2 separate regions of the Homo sapiens genome follow, and region 1 is linked to region 2. The links come from fine-mapping of genetic effects on gene expression. A gene starts in region 2. The other region holds a variant in brackets. All regions are shown on one strand. Distances are from middle to middle. Region 1 overlaps VPS45 (vacuolar protein sorting 45 homolog). Region 2 holds the start of LINC02988 (long intergenic non-protein coding RNA 2988).

What was found.
Region 1: its variant is fine-mapped to the expression of LINC02988 in whole blood (TOPMed, PIP 0.98).

The regions. Positions count from the first base shown.
Region 1 is chr1:150,088,985-150,091,835 of GRCh38, reverse strand. All of the region lies in intron 10 of VPS45 (vacuolar protein sorting 45 homolog), which reads right to left. Among named protein-coding and RNA genes, the nearest start is that of VPS45, 23 kb to the right of the region's middle. The variant A/G (reference allele first, on the strand shown) is at 1,413.
Region 2 is chr1:150,159,402-150,162,318 of GRCh38, reverse strand. LINC02988 (long intergenic non-protein coding RNA 2988) reads right to left here and starts at 1,591. Exons shown (of 4, transcript NR_135098.1): 1 at 1,509-1,591. It overlaps PLEKHO1 (pleckstrin homology domain containing O1), which reads right to left. Exons shown (of 6, transcript NM_016274.6): 6 at 2,254-2,917. The coding sequence ends at 2,796. RefSeq lists silencers at 184-253, 842-911, 2,612-2,661 and an enhancer at 1,522-1,831.

The DNA of each region.
Region 1 (2,851 bases), 70 kb after region 2:
ACTATGACAATTATAAGTCATACATTTAGCAACTGTCTCAACTATAGAAAATTAAATGCCTTTTGTCCAAGGTAAGAATTAAATAAGGAAATATATTTCCATTGTAATTGCTTTAGGACAAAAATGAATTTAATAATGGATAGTTCCACTTTTCTTTTCCAATAGCTGAAGTTGTAATTTCCTTGCTGAAAGAACACTTACTATTTCCACGACTTGAATCAATACGGCACAACAAAACTGACTAGTTGATTTGCAAAACCTACTGCTTTCTCTTAGTATTAATGATTGACCAGTGAAATGGAGACAAGTTGGTAGAATTTTACACAGACTGGGCTTGATCTCTAAGAAGCATCAGAACATGTCTCAACATGGTTGACAGAGATGAGTATGTAATAGCATGTAATCTCTAGATTTAGTACTTAATGATTTTAAGAGGCAGGTACCGATAGGAAAGGGGGCCAGGAGAAGCCATGTTTACATTTTTTAATCCTCATATTCAGGACCTTCCATATAGTATAGATTTATATTTATTATGCAGCAGAACAAATAATTTAATTCAAGTCAACAAATACTTTTGAGTCCCCATAAGGCAGTATGTCATGCACTGTTGCAGGCACACAGATAAGTTAAAGACAATTCCTGTCCCCAGTGAGTTCACAGTCAATGGGGTGAAGGATGATCAAAGTAATATAATTTATTCTGCTATATACATGTTTCTTTAATGTACTTTAGTTCTGTGAGATGGATAAATATGGAAATGGTGTCAGTTTAACACAGAAGGCATATTGGTTCACATGTAATTTTTCCAGAATGGATAGGCTTTCTTATGATTAAAGGGGAAGCCTTACCAATACCTTAAGAAAAAAAGATGATAATCCTACAGAAGTGTGTTCTGCAAGAAGTATCTGGTTTTGTAGCTTCAAGAACTGTTGCACTTTCCACTGTGTTATGCTATATGGGGAAAGGGCAAGTGCAAATAAAAAGGATGCAAATATATTGCACTGTGTAAAAAAGCAAAACAAAACAAAATAACAATCAAACACTGATTGATGAAGAAAGCTGTCTCCATATGGTATTTTTAATTTTGACAAAGTAGTCTTTATGAGAAGTGAGTATTTTCAAGACCTTATAATTTGAAGAAAACATGAGCCCCAGGAATAAGGCTGCAGAGGATGGACTGGCTCTATTTCTAGGTGCAAATGCCGGTGGAGATTTAACCATGCTAGTATTTTTATTATAATTGTTACTATTTTTATTAGGGCTCTGATTTAAAAATTATATGAATGTTTTCTTTCTTTCTATAGTCATGTAGATTTTAAGTGGTCTGCTTATAACCCTATATTCTCATAACCCTTTTTTTAGTGCATGTTTTTATAGAATATGAGGTTTTTCAGGAACAAATATGTGGTGTT[A/G]TAACAGAAACATGTATGCAAAAAACAAAACAAAAAGCAAAAGCTGAAAATCAGTGCAAAAGAGGAAGGGGAGAGAAAGGGGAAGAGAAAGTATATTGGGTTGTTGAGAAATTAGGAAAGACTTCACAGAGGTGACACTTGCCAAAGGTCCTGAAGAATCAGTAAGTATTGGAACCAGTGTGAGAGACCAAAAGCAGTGGCACTATCAAAATAAATATGGAAATCAGAGGAAGAAATGGCTTGGTTTGAAAGGCTGGCAAGAGCCTTGAAGGGCACTGAATTCTGAGGACATAACTATCAACTATATGATTACTTTACAACTTACAAAATGCTTTCACGTACATTATCTCTTTTGTACCTGACAACAACCATGTCCAATGTCTAAGAGCTCTTCTGTTCACACTGACTAGGGACTATGATGATAATGGGGAACCTCCCATGTAGCTTTCAAGTACAGAGTTCTCTGAAAGAGATTTCTATTGTTGATTTTTTGGGTTACTATTTCACTACCATCATCCTTAAGGGATCAAAAAGGGAGAAACTTCTCTTCTGTAGATTTCGATCCCAAATTCGTAAGATTTTTCTTATTTTTTTCCTTTCATGGGATCTTTCCCCTAGAGCAGCCACGGAATACAGCCCATTTAGGGTATCTGTTCAAATGTTCCACTATTTTCTACTATAATATGAAGAAATTTCAGGTACAAATTATGTATGTATCTCAATCAACAGCGTAAGTTTAAAACATTAAGAAATCCTGTTGGGGGCCGGGTGCCATGGCTTACACCTGTAATCCCAACAATTTGTGAGGTCGAGGTAGGTGGATCACTTGAGGTCAGGAGTTCGAGACCAGCCTGGCCAACATGGTGAAACTCCCTCTCTACTAAAAATACAAAAAATTAGCAGGATGTAGTGGCGGGTGCCTGTAGTCTCAGCTACTCAAGAGGCTGAGGCAGGAGAATTGCTTGAACCTGGGAGGCGGAGGTTGCAGTGAGCCGAGATTACGTGCCACAGTACTCCAGCCTGGGCGACAGAGTGAAACTGTCTCAAATAAATAAATAAAAATTTTAAAAAATTTTTTTAAAAAGAAAAGAAATCCCATTTGGGATTTCTGTTGTTACTTTTCTTATAGGCACAATGTCTCATTTCCTGCCCTTGCAGTCACTCTCTTACCACCTTTTCTGGCTGATCTGTCTCTGTACTTTTAAGCAAATCTGAGAAATCCAAGTAACTATAAATTCACAAAACTGGTATGATGACAGTCAAAGACTATTTGCAGTAATCAGTCTCTGCCCTTTTCTATTTACCTTCACTTGGATCTTGACTCTTGGCTGTTTCTTATTAGAGATAGTAAGTGTTGTTGATGATGACGTGGAGAAATAAGAACCCTTACACACAACTGGTGGGAATGTAAATTAGTACAGCCATTATGGAAAATAGTA
Region 2 (2,917 bases):
CTGGTTCCATGCTAAGCTCTAAAGTTCTTGAAGACCAGGGACCATGCTTTCATCCCTTCTGGCTCTCTCCTCTGAAGAGAGAGGTCCAGCACAGCCTGTGGCCTGGATCTAGCTAAGTGACAGTGACCCCACCCCGGTGGCCTCATTCACACAGTGCTCCTTCCAACTGAGCTAGCGGCTCACTGCCCAGAGTCAAACCAGTAACAGTAGCTGCAGTGGTCACTTTCTGACTGACAGGCATTTTCCATATTGTCCTCACCCATCCAATAGCTCTGCAGCTTGCAGATGAAAAAAACTGATACTCGGAAAGCATGTGCCTTGCCCAGAGCCTCATAATCAAGAAGTAACAGAGTTAGAATTTGAATCCAGATCCATCTGGTTTCAAAGCTGGGCTCATTTCACCACCCTAGGGCCTGGATGTTCCAGTAACTGCTGGAGAACTGGAAGCTGTTGGTTTTAGAGCCTGAAGCCCAGGAGCACAGTGCCCAGCTCCTCTCTTACTGTTGTGAGGTCCCCGATCTTTCTTTTCTGCTTCTTTCACCTGTCATTCTCCTCTCTAGTGTCTCCCTCCATCTTCTGGCTCCCCTGGGAGCCACAGATAATTGACATGTTGGGATACACATGTCATTTGTGCTTTTGTCTTTTTTCATTATGTGGGAGCAACAAGGAAGAAAAAAAGAAAAGGAAAAATGCTGGTAAAATACAAAGATAGAGACTTGTAAAAAGAAAGCATAATTCTACCTTAGACTTCAATACTTGTGACAATGGATGGCTCTGCTGACCATGCTTAGGGCTGTGGAGAGTGCAGCTATTTGAAGGACAGGAAGTCTGGAAGCCTGGGTTCTCACCTCATACCCCAAGAGACCATAGAATGACATGAAGGTGGCACTCTTGCACACTTTCCCTCACTCAACTGGGATACACATTCTTCAAGGAAGAGGCTAGGTAACTACAGTCTAGAGCTGGGGACAATCTCCATGACAGAGTGGCAAGGGACTAGAGAGAGCAAGAATTCCTCTGCCCTAGGGATGGTTTAACAGCAGTGATAAGGTCCAGAGAAGAGCTGTGAAGGAAAGAGATGATTTCTGGAAAGGGGACAGAGGCCCCCATTTTGCTTACATGGGTTGTAGGAGTGACGTTAGAGCAGAAGAATGCGGACTGAAGAATCTGTTTCTCCCACAGGTTTTTCCCCCGCTTCCTCCTATCCCATCTTCCTATAACATCGGGGCAGCGTCATGGCCAGGTCTACATGTAACTTGGCCCCGTTTCCTCCCCCTCCTCCCCTTACCTCTAGTGAAGCCCCGCTGCTCTTGGAGGATCAAGCAGCTAGCAAGGCACACTTCAATGTGGCTTTTAACCCCTCATTTACTTGATTCATGAGACTCTGTCCCCTTCTTTCCCAAAATCAAATTATTCCCTTCATAGCTCTTCTGGGGACCTCACCGTTACTAAACCTCATCTCACACACTTCCAAGGAAAGAGTGAACAGTGAGTTGTGTGGGACCTACCACAGACAAGAATGTTGGGAAGCCTGGCAACTTCAGAGGTGGCTGGGAGGGTGGTGGCGTGGGCATCCAGATGCTTTTCTAAAGTGGGGACTTGCTTAGTGATGGAAGAGGTTTGAGGAAGGAGAGGGGGAGGCTACAGGAAACCTCAGCATGGCTGAAAGAGGAACTTGGACAGATGTTTGGTTTTCCCCTTCATCCTACCCAGCTTGCATCACACACCAGTTTCATTCTTAGTTCAGTTCTTCTGTGGGGTCTGTCTCTAGTTCCCCTGTGCTAGGGCCCTGAATCAAATAATGAAACTAGTCTCATCCACTCAAGGTTGGATTTTTTTTTTTTTTTTGAGACGGAGTTTCGCTCTTGTTGCCCAGGCTGGAGTGCAATGGCACAATCTTGGCTTGCTGCAACCTCTGCCTCCCAGGTTCAAGTGATTCTCCTGCCTCAGCCTCCCGCATAGCTGGGATTACAGGCGCCCACCACCATGCCTGGCTAATTTTTTGTATTTTCGGTAGAGACTGGGTTTCATCATGTCGGTCAGGCTGGTCTCAAACTTCTGACCTCAGGTGATCCACCCGCCTTGGCCTCCCAAAGTGCTGGGATTACAGGCGTGAGCCACTGCGCCCGACAAGGGTGGATCTTTGAGTCAAGGTTGGGAAGGGTGTGGAAGATGAAGGGAAGAAACACCTCATGTAAGAAAATCCAGGCAGCTCGATCTCAATGAGAGACTGCTAGGAATGAGAAGCCAGTGTCTGGCTGGGGAGATTTTAATTCCACAAATCCTCCTCAGGGCTGGGATAAATTTCACTTCCATGTGCACGGACAGGTGACACTGGCCTCCACATCCCTACAACTAGAGTTGGGCAGCTGAAACTTCACCCTCAAACTGAAGGCCTGGGGTGGGACATAACAGAAAACATCCTCATCCCCCTCCCGCTCTAAGCTTAGAAGCCCACTGTATCCTTGGGAGCAGCAGTGGACTCCCTGTGCCGTCTTGGGGGCGGGCGGTGTGTGGAGTGGTCAGACTGTGTCTTTACCGTGCCTTCTCTCTCTCTGGCTGGGTAAAAACTTCCTGCTACTGCTGCGGGGTCACTTCCTCAAACCTGAGGGGCATACGAGGGGCATATGGAAAGTAGGTGGGGCAATAAGGGTTGTAGTGGGGTCAGGCATCAGCAAGAGCAATGAGTTCATTTTTGTTTTCTTTTTTTGATTGAGGTAAATAAAAAAGCTTTATCCAGCAACACGGAGATAAGAGTCTGTCCAACCCGACAAGTTCCAGACCCCACCCTGCCCTCACATCAGGCTCTTCCGGTACTGACTGTGCGGGGTGGTCTGTCTGAGGTGGGAGTCCGGGGTCTGCAGGTCCATCTGTCTGTACAGGTCTCTCAGCTCCCTGACCTCCTGCAGCACCCTCT